2 separate regions of the Homo sapiens genome follow, and region 2 is linked to region 1. The links come from fine-mapping of genetic effects on gene expression. A gene starts in region 1. The other region holds a variant in brackets. All regions are shown on one strand. Distances are from middle to middle. Region 1 holds the start of POFUT1 (protein O-fucosyltransferase 1). Region 2 overlaps TM9SF4 (transmembrane 9 superfamily member 4).

The links. PIP is the estimated chance that this variant, and not a neighbour inherited with it, causes the effect. A credible set is the group of variants that fine-mapping cannot tell apart.
Region 2: its variant is the best candidate, but not a certain one, in a credible set for the expression of POFUT1 in whole blood (INTERVAL, PIP 0.58).

What each region holds. Positions count from the first base shown.
Region 1 is chr20:32,205,313-32,210,682 of GRCh38, forward strand. POFUT1 (protein O-fucosyltransferase 1) reads left to right here and starts at 2,568. Exons shown (of 7, transcript NM_015352.2): 1 at 2,568-2,753; 2 at 4,759-4,880. The coding sequence starts at 2,630. PLAGL2 (PLAG1 like zinc finger 2) reads right to left here and starts at 2,431. Exons shown (of 3, transcript NM_002657.3): 1 at 2,329-2,431. RefSeq lists enhancers at 437-486, 2,402-3,315, 2,778-2,907 and a silencer at 2,218-2,637.
Region 2 is chr20:32,138,427-32,143,796 of GRCh38, forward strand. TM9SF4 (transmembrane 9 superfamily member 4) reads left to right here. Exons shown (of 18, transcript NM_014742.4): 4 at 3,071-3,239; 5 at 3,340-3,469; 6 at 4,556-4,679. Among named protein-coding and RNA genes, the nearest start is that of TM9SF4, 31 kb to the left of the region's middle. The variant T/C (reference allele first, on the strand shown) is at 2,739.

The DNA of each region.
Region 1 (5,370 bases):
GCAGTCTTCCCCTTTTCCCTCACAACTAACCCTCGGCACATCCCCTTTAAAGAGCCCCTTACTTTACCTCCCTCCAGGCACCATCTCCTGGGCCAGAGTTCTCTCTTAAGCAGAGAGCCACTTTCCTATACTCTCTTGTATTATTAGGGCTCCATATCCCAAACAGGAATGCTTGCTAAAAACTCTGTATGGTCCTCTTTGAAAGCTGAAACTGAGACATATTTCTCCCCAGTCTGTCCGTCCCCTGTTATGGGCCATGATGCCTGCTGCTCTCTGATGAAACTATAGTTTTTATGGTGTTACATCATCTCTATAGAAACTGCGTTCTTTCTCCATTATTAGCCTGTTTCCTCATCTGTAAAGCTAAAAATACTTACCTCACAGGCTTGCTGTAAGGATTATTTTAGTGAGGTATGCAAAGGGCTCAGCACAGAGCTTGGCCTGCTAGAAGTACCCAACAAAAGAGAGCTATTATCTTTGTCTTTGTATTGAGTTGCATGTTTCCACCTTCTGCTGCCACACTCAAATTCTCCTCACTCCCCCCTAAAAAACAGTTGAGAGATAACACCCCTGCACAAGGAAAGGGTTAATCTTTGAGTGTTCTTAACTAAAGAGACCCACAGAGGATTAACAGCTCCACTTCAGTGACTACCCTAAAATAGCTTTTATCCTCCTGCCCAAGAGTTACTTGGGGATCTGAAGAACTCAATTCAACACCTGCCGGAGGAAATAGACCCAGAACGTTCCTTGGGATAGAATCTTCCCTTAAGCAGAACCCAAAATAGCAACTGGGAAATTATAAATAGACTTAGAGGAAAGAAAAAACAAAACAAAACAAAACAAAAAACAGATCCTGATCTCAGAACCAGAAACAAATCCTAAAACACACTGGTTGGCTGGAAAACAGTGAGAAGAGGGGAAATGGGAATGCTGTCGCCCCCTTCCCCCCCGCCCACTCCAGAGTGGTGGGAGAATTAAATTACAGGGAGGCTGGAGAGTCTCAATGACTTGCACCATTCCAAGAAACATCAAACAGGATTAACAGGGGTTGGATTTACTCTCAGGCTGCTAATTCTTCTGTCAGTGTAGATGGGCCCTCTTTGGAGTCTCTTTGATTCACTATTTCCTCAGATTCCTGCTGCCTCCCACTCCTGGGGAGGCCTTGAACAAATGGCTGCAACTCATCACAACCCCATTTTCATGGGGAGAAAACGTGATTCGACACCCCCGCTCCCAATCTGGTGGCCTCACCTTAGGAGAGAAAGGTTAGAAACCCAAGACCAGACTCTACACACAGTCCCATGGCTGACAGGTGGAAAAACACACAAGCCAGGAGACAGGCTAAGCTTGCAGGTGAAAGCACCGATTCCCCCACACAGGTGTCCCCATATCCTCCACCTAACAGGCCCCTTTCTCCCCACCAAGGTGGGCCACAGCCTGGTCCCAGGCCAACTTTTAGATCACCCCACTGTGGTGTGGGAAAGGTTCAATTCCCCGAGCCTGGGAGAGATGGGAGTGGATGAGGGCTGGAGAAGCAAAGGAAATCCAGGGAGAAGTCTGGAGGGAGTCTCTGGGATGGGAAGGAAGAGCGAGGATGGGAAGGAATCATGAGCAACTTTCCTGGGTCTCTAAGGGATCCCCACAAGAATGAAATGGGGGATTATAAGGGCTGGAAGGCTGGGGGGATGGGGATAGTCAGAAGTGTATCCTCTGAATTTCAAGAGGGTCTCAAAATGGGTAACGGGATGGAAGATGTCGAAAGCCTGGGAGTATGGCCACTGAGGAGGGAACTACAGGTGGGGCTTATTCGACTTCTCCAGACCCAGATATTTGAGGGAAGCCTCAAAGGGAGTTATGTAAGTCTGGAAAATGAAACAGGGTACAGAGCGGGCTATCTGGAGCAGGAAAGGGGGTTATGTGGGTCTGGGTAGGCGTGTCGGAGGGAGGGAGCAGGTGCAGCTTATCTGCGTCCCCCAGACCCGGGTCCCTGGTAAGGTCAGCAGCGCCTTATCTGGGTCTCCAGGGAGCCTAGGGGTCGGGAATGGGGGACCCTCAGGACTGCGTCTCCAGGTCTCGGAAGGGAGGGGACCGGTGGCTTCCTCGGGTCCCCCAGACACAGGTATGGGGTCCAGGGAGAGTTTTCGTCACCCCAGGGCCTATCTGGGGCCGGGTTGGCGCAGACCGGGCCCCGGGTCGGGGGTGTGGGCGACCGCGCTGAGGGGCCCGAGATGAGGCGCGCCGCCGCTCCGGGTACAGGGCGCGCGGACGCAGCGAGACGGCCTCCCGCCCCTCTCCCCGCCGTCCCCTGGGGCCCTCGCCGGCACTCACCGCGCTCGGGGCCCCACGCTGCGGGCCGGGCCGCGCTCGGGCTCCGCCAGGCCCCCTCAGGCCCCGGTAGTGGCGGCGGTCGGGCCATTGTGCGGTGCATTGTGGGAGCCGCGCGAGCGGGCGCTCGGGTCGTGGAGGGGGCGGTGCCGCGGGATCTCTATGGTCCCGCCCGCCCGCGGGCTAGAGCGGCCGGGGCGGTGCGCGGGCGGCGCGCAGGGACCGCTGGGAGCGGGGCGGGCGCTCGCGTCCCTCCTTCCCTCCCCGACTGTGCGCCGCGGCTGGCTCGGGTTCCCGGGCCGACATGGGCGCCGCCGCGTGGGCACGGCCGCTGAGCGTGTCTTTCCTGCTGCTGCTTCTGCCGCTCCCGGGGATGCCTGCGGGCTCCTGGGACCCGGCCGGTTACCTGCTCTACTGCCCCTGCATGGGTAAGGCCTCCCAAGCCCTCTGCTCAGATGGAGAAACTGAGGCCGGGAGAGGAAAAGCCACTCCTCAGATGCGCCCAGAGACACCTTCACAGGTCCAGGAGAGAACCTCAGAGCGGGACGGGGCATGCTCTTCTCCTCTCTGCCTTAGTTGCAAGGGCACAGAGGGGCCAACGTGTCCAACTTTCCATTTGACAGATGAGAAAACTGAGGCTGGGAGAGGTTACGTGACTTGCTTGAGGTCTAAGCCAGTCCAGGGTCCAGTAAATGGAGTTAGTGGGGCAGGACTTGATGTCACTGACCCACGCTGGCTCCTGGTGATTTTTCATTGATTCAGCAAATATTTATGGGGCACCTATTCTGTGCCGGGCCCTGTTCTCTGTACTGGGAATACCGCAGTGAATAAGATAAACTCCGTGTCCTTGTAGAGCCTTCATTTTAGTTGGGGAAGACAAACAATTGAGAATAAGTAGGCCAGGCGCGGTGGCTCACTTCTGTAATCCCACCACTTTGAGAGACCGAGGCAGGATCACTTGAAGCCAGGAGCTCGAGATCAGCCTAGGCAACATAGTGAAAATCCAATCTCAAAAAAAAAAAAAAAAAAAAAAAGCAGAGCGTGGTATCGTGTGCTTGTAGTCCCTTGGGAGTTATCTGGGCGGCTACTTGGGAGGCTGAGGTGGGAGGATCTCTTGAGCCGAGGAATTCGAGGCTGCAGTGAGCTCTGATCGTGCCACCGCACTGCCAGCCTGGGTGACAGAGTGAGACCCTGTCTCGAAACAAGCAAACCCAAAAAGGGGTAAACATAAAACAATAAATACATAGTTTCATAGAGGATGATGAATACTAAGGGAAAATAAAGAGAGCAGGGTAGGGGAGAATCTAAAGACCATGCCAGGTGCACAGTTGAAATGGGTATGGTGGATCATCATTGTGGAAGTGGATGATCTTAAGGCCCCCAGTGGCTTCCAGACTCCTGACCATGACTTTCAGGGCCCTGAATGATGTGGCCTCCACTGGCCATCTCCACAACTCCCTTCTCTGCTGATCCTCCAGCTGCAGCCACACTTAACTCCTTTGCGTTCCTCACACATGCTCAGGTCTTCCAGTCTGCACTGCTGCAGGTGGCGGTCCCTATGCCTGGAATCCTCTCCTCCATTTCTGCCTGACCAGCTGTTTCCCATCCTTTAGATCTCAGCCTAAATGTCACCAGAAAGGATTTCACTGACCTCTACCCAAGTAATCTCCTCATTACCCTATCACCAAACTTTTTTCATCTCTTTCTGGCAATTATCAACATTTTTCATGTATTTGTTTACATGTTTAGTGTCTCTGCAGTGAACTGTGAGTGCCTTAGGGGCAGAGGCCTTGTCCTTCTTGTTCATTCCTGTATCCCAGCACCTAGCACAGAGTCTGGCACATTGTGGCCTCTCAATCATATTTGTGAAATGAATGAACAGGTGCCATGCTGGGATTAAGAAAAGGAATCACACAGGGTCCTTGCTTCTGAGGCATTCACAGGCTGAGGAATCAGCCAGTACGAAGGCCAGGAAGTGAGCAAAGATACTTGAGGAAAATTGAAGAACTGAAGTAGCTCAGAGCCAAGGTGGGAGGTAAAGGAGGGAGAGTGAGTATGGCAGGGGATTGGTGAAAGGAGCCCAGTGAATGAGGCATTCGAGTTGCCCGTCCATGTGCAGGTGAATGGAGATAGAGGTAGAAGCTCTTCTGGCTGAGGGACAGCAAGATCAGAGGCATTGGGTGGGGATGGGAATTGTAGAGCATGTTGGGGAAACAGCAAGAAACCTGGAGTGGCGGAAGCAGTTGTTGCAGGACCTGAAGAGCCTTGGATATCAGACCCAAGAGTCCAGACTTGTTCTTATGCTGCCAGCTCCCCTAGTTCTCCTTGGTATCCCTGACTTTCTACCCCTGGCTCCACAACCTTTCTGAGCCCTGCATGCTCTATGCCCTCCATGCCCCAGGCCTCACCTCACCCGCAATGTACCATTTCCAGGGCGCTTTGGGAACCAGGCCGATCACTTCTTGGGCTCTCTGGCATTTGCAAAGCTGCTAAACCGTACCTTGGCTGTCCCTCCTTGGATTGAGTACCAGCATCACAAGCCTCCTTTCACCAACGTGAGTACTTCCCACTGACCTTGGCCTTTCTCCGCCCTTTCTCAGTCTTGCTTACTTACACTTAACCCTCAAGTCCTCTGGGCTTTACCTCCCACTCCTCTGAGATTTCCCTACCTCCAGCCAGAACTGTCTTCACTGCAATAACAATGCCTAACATTTATTTATCCAGCACCTGTTGTGTGCGGCTGCATGAGAATTAGCTCATTTCACCCTCATCACTTGCCTGTGAGGAAACCGGGGTTTACAGAGGTTAGGTAACTTGCCCAAGATCACACAGCCTGTGAGTAGGAGAGCTGGAATTCAAAGCTATCTTTGTCTGACTCCAGAGCCTGTGACTTGAACCTAAAGCCTCCATTTCCTTCCCTGATTGGTCCTACCCTCTGTGCATTCCATTGGCCAAGGGTGGCAGATGCTATTATCAATTTTAAAGGAGACATGCAGGCACAGGTTATTTAATGACATGTCCAAGGCCACAACCCAGGTAGTCTGG
Region 2 (5,370 bases), 67 kb before region 1:
AAGACCAGCCTGGCCAACATACTAAAATACAAAATTTAAAAAAATTTGTAAATTTGTAAATCTCTACTAAAAATACAAAAATTAGCCAGGCATGGTGGTGCACGCCTGTTATCCCAGCTACTTGGGAGGCTAAGGCAGGAGGATCGCTTCAACCCAGGAGGCAGAGGTTGCAGTGAGCTGAGATTGCGCCATTGCGCTCCAGCCTGAGCAACAGAGCAAGACTCTATCTCAAAAACAAAACAAAAACAAGAAATAGAAATGAGCCATTTCCTGACCATTATGTCCCCTTTCTTGGCTAAACTTAATTTTTAAATATCAAGAAGCGATTCCACTGTACTTGGTCTGCAGCCCTGTTCCTCTCTGTAGCTCTTTCTCTCCTCAAGCAAGATCCTCATTGACAGGAGATGAAATAGGCAGTAGGAAATGGTATAGAGGAAAGAGGCCAGGGATTTAGCATTACCACCACCCCCTCATATCACCACGAGCAGGTCTCTGATCCTCAGCTTGTCATCTATAAAATGCCATTTCAGCAGTGGGCTCTGCAGATATCTTACTGTGTCCTCGCTCTTCACTGGCCAATCCATCCCTGGGTTTTGCAGACTCACCTGCATTGCCAGCCTTCCAAAACAGGGTGGAGGGGTGAGGCCTTCATCCATGCCCTTCCTCAATCTCTCCCTCTCCTGAGTGCCTCCTCCACACTGAAAGCATTGCTTGCCAGGGCCGCTACTTTGCACAGCAGAGTGCTGGCGCCTACAGCGGTGTAGCTCGCGGCCCTGCCATTTACCATCTGTGGGCCGATAACCCCCAACTTCCATCTGTGCCCTGACCTCTCCTCTGCGCCTCAGATCTTGATATCTAAGTGCCCACTTGATATATCCAAACTGAAAATGCCTTCGATGTAAATTTGCTGTTCTTCCTATTTTCCCACCTAGAACCTGGTTGTAGAAACCTCAGAGTCTTCCTAATATGCACCATCCCTCACTCATGCCTTGTTTACAGTCAGCACTGCTTCCCCTGGATTTCACCTCCTTGGAGCTCCTGAATCTGTGTACTCTTCTCTACCCTCACCAGCACCTGTTCCAGTCACCGGTGTCACTCATGCATGACTGACTGCCATCACTGCCCCCCACCACCACCACTGCTCACCGCCAGTTCCTTGCATCCTCTGTTTTCTTCACAAAACAGCCAGAATGATCTTTCTGGAACCAGACTCAGATAACGTCTTTCTCTACCCCTGTTAGAAACCTTCATTGGATTTTGTTGCTTTCTAGGTCAAACTGGTCAAGATCAAACTGTGTGTCCCACAGGCCCCCTGAGTACTGGCCCATCTCTGCAGCTCATCTGAGCCTTCTGCACTGTAGCCACACAGGCCTTTCAGGTTCAGTGCCTCCCCCACCCCAAAGGGGCCTTTGCACATGCTGTCCTGTCTGGAATATTCTCCTATTTCTTTGCTCAGTTAACATCTCTCTTCCTTTCAAGTACCCCTTCCTCAGGGAAGCTGTCCTAGACCCACTCCCCTGTGTCTGCAGCAAGTTATATATTCTCATTTTGCTGATTATTCAGCAAAGTCTATCTTCCTGCTAGGCCATGCACTCTATGAGTACATCTATTCAACTTTGCATCTTTAGGGCTTGGCATGTAGCCAGTACCCAGTACATGTTCACGGATGAATGAATGAATGACTAGATGACTAGGGAGAGTGCCCTGTCGAGCAGATCCACACTGGAGGAAAAGTGCGAGACCAAGTGCATGTGGAGGTGTTAATTAGTCTTCATCTTGTCCATCAATTGTTGAACAGCTCAGAATGAAAGCACCATGGGGTTTGCTTGATAGTCCCTAACTGCTCAGTGCCTGTTAGGGTGACATCTGGCAGCAGTTACTCTGAGGCAAAAGGCACACAAGGGGTGCCACTTCATTGAGTCAAAAGACGTTTTGCCTGAAAATCTCAGGTGCTGGATTTCACCCCACTCCCCTCCCTGCTGGAACCAGGATCTGAAGACACAGAGATAAATAGGAAACAGTCTTAACAGTAACGAGCTCATAGTCAGGTAGGGGAGCCAGAAACATGACTGTATCAGCACATTGTGCAAAGTAAATCCTTGACATAGGAACGGATGCTGATGATAAAAGAGCGTTTGATGCCTGCCTACTCTGTGCCTGCTACTTTATTGGATTGACTTCCTTTATTTCTCACTGTAACCCTGTGAGGTGGATACTGTTATTATCCCATTTTATGGATGAGGACATTGAGGCTCAGTGAGATGGAGTGACTTACCAAGACTGCTAAGGCAGGCAGCCGAGAGTCAGAGTCATCCCTCCACTGCATAATGCTGCCCTCACACAGGGCAGTCAGGGGAGGGAGTGATGGGCTTGTCCTGAAGGGGTTAGGGAGGGCTTCCCAGAGAGAGTGAAATGGAAACTGGGCTTCTGGGGAGGCCAGGAGCATGGGGCAGGGAACTCTAGGAGAAGGAAGCGACTGAGGCCCAGAGGCATAGAAGGATGTGATGCTTGGCTGGGCGCGGTGGCTCACACCTGTAATCTAGCACTTTGGGAGGCTGAGATGGGCAGATCATGAGGTCAGGATATCGAGACCATCCTGGCTAACAGGGTGAAACCCCGTCTCTACTAAAAATACAAAAAATTAGCCGGGCGTGGTGGCATGCACCTGTAGTCCCAACTACTCGGGAGGCTGAGGCAGGAGAATGGCCTGAACCCAGGAGGCAGAGTTCACAGTGAGC[T/C]GAGATCGTGCCACTGCACTCCAGCCTGGGTGACAGAGCGAGACTCCATCTCAAAAAAAAAAAAAAAAAAAAAAAAAGGATGTGATGCTTGATGAGTGCTGAGTGCTAAGGGGTCTGGTAGCACTAGAGCCCAAAGGAGGAGGGTGGCAGGTCGAGGTTAGCTGGGACCGTTGGGCGTGAAGCAATGGGAAGGGCATTGGCTGCCAGGCTGAGGCACTGCTGAAGTCCTTGAAAGCCCATGTTTGCCCCGCAGTCCTGTGTCTCTGTGACTCTGCTGACCTCAGCAACCTCAGGGCTGAAGCTCTGAGCTTGATCTGTCTCTCTTACGGCAGGAGAGGTGCTGAGAGGGGACCGGATTGTCAACACCCCTTTCCAGGTTCTCATGAACAGCGAGAAGAAGTGTGAAGTTCTGTGCAGCCAGTCCAACAAGCCAGTGACCCTGACAGTGGAGCAGAGCCGACTCGTGGCCGAGCGGATCACAGAAGACTACTACGTCCACCTGTAAGTCGCCCTGTGCTCCTTGCTGCCTCAGGCTCACACAGGGGAGGACACTGACGGGAGAGGCGGTCGAGAGGGACTGAGTGGGGCCTTCACTTTCCAGCATTGCTGACAACCTGCCTGTGGCCACCCGGCTGGAGCTCTACTCCAACCGAGACAGCGATGACAAGAAGAAGGAAAAAGATGTGCAGTTTGAACACGGCTACCGGCTCGGCTTCACAGATGTCAACAAGGTAGAGTGTCTTTGGCGTGCTCACAGGACCGGGAGCCACACCTCACGAGTCCTGAGCACTTGGGGCCACAGAAAAGGTGGGGCTCGGCCACAGCAAGTTTCTCCAGGTGCCCTGGGCATGATGGTCTGTCAGAGGTCCGAGTGCTCCGGGCAAGTCCCTGGGAGGTGCTACAGGGAGGTGAAGCCACAATTCTTAGGAAGTTAGGTTCCATTTTTGTAAGATTAAAACAACATAAAAAAAAAAACCGTGGAACTTCATCAGTATGTAGGAGAGAGGGCTAAGTAGTGGTCAAGAGCGTGCAGGCTCCCTGGGTTTGAATCCTTCCTCTCCCAGTTACTAGTTGTCTAAGTGACCCTGAGCCTGTGGTTCCTTAGCTGTAAAATGTATGCAGCAGCAGTGGCGGGGTAAATTAGCACATTCGTGTGAGCCCTTCCCAGCACAGCCCTGGAGAATCAGCTAATAATGTGATGATTATAGCCCTGATTCTCTTATCTTTCTTTCTAAACTGAAAGATATTAGTTAGGGAATAAATTACAAAAGTATGTGTTTTGAGGTGCAGCCCCTGTCCCCAAAGGGCGTCTGTCCTAACTGGGAAGAGAACCGACAGTGGGAGGCTCTAAGTCTCCAGTCCCAGCTGCCTTTCACTGGCCATTAATTGCAGGCGAGGTCAGAGGGAGCTCCTTTTACACTCAGGTTGTCACAGAGGAGGTGGGCCATGAGAAGTTGGTGGGCTTTTGCTGAGTGGAGTTGGGGGTGGCATTCTAGTTGGAGTGATTGCAGGGTAGAGACTGGTTCATGGGGCGGTGGGCACAGGGGAGTCTAGGTGAACTCATGTGACTTAGATGATTACACCCAGTTGTATCAGGGTCAGATGATAGAAGGCCTTGAATGCCAGACTTTGAGAAATGGGCTTTTGTCTGATAAGCTGCAGGGAGCCCTTGAAGAGCTTCTGAGTAGGGGAGTGATGAGAACAGTGTTTTAGGAAGGTTGGTACAACCAGGCATGCTGGGTGAGGCAAGGGCCCTAATACCTGGAGAGTATCCCTAAGTGATGTTCTGTTGTGCTTTCTCTGTTGCTGTGTTTCAGATCTACCTGCACAACCACCTCTCATTCATCCTTTACTATCATCGGGAGGACATGGAAGAGGACCAGGAGCACACGTACCGTGTCGTCCGCTTCGAGGTGATTCCCCAGAGCATCAGGCTGGAGGGTGAGTGGGGAGGTGTGGCCGGAGGGGCAGGGCTGGATGGGCCTGGGCTTCTCCACGCAGGGTCTTCGCACTCTTCTCCCTCCTGAGCTGGCCGATGGGCTCGGGTGTGGCGTGTGGGCCCAGCCAAGGTAGGATCATGGTATTCTCATTAGAGAAGACGGGGTGTGGGGGCAGCTGACAGCTGCAGTGTCACGGGCTAGACACCTTACTAGTTTACCCCTTCCCAGCAACCCCAGGAGGTACGTGATGATTACAAAGGAAGAACTAGAGGCTCAAAAGGAGCTAGTGACTTGGCCAAGACCAAACAGCAAGTTGGGGCTTTGTTGGGCCTCCTCACAAGAACCAGCCAGCTCACCCTGGGTTGAGAACAAGGGGCCAGGGTACAGACAAAGCCTGTAGGCAGCAGGTTTCTTCGTTCCTCTCCCGCTGTGTGAGTGATTGGCATAAACTAAAATTTGCCCAGGGTCAACAGGTGTGCGGGAGTTTGAGAGTCCAGCACAGTCCTGATGGGCCTCACAGGAGCTGGTCCGGCTTTGCCTCACCTCTTGGCCCTTGATCATCACAGTGTGCTTTTTAATTAAGCAGCATGCCCAGGATTTTGACCATGTTGGTGGTATTTGGACTTTTTTTTTTTTTCCACTGTGGAACTTAGTGTTCAAACAAAATTAGACACAGAAGTCCCAAACATAGA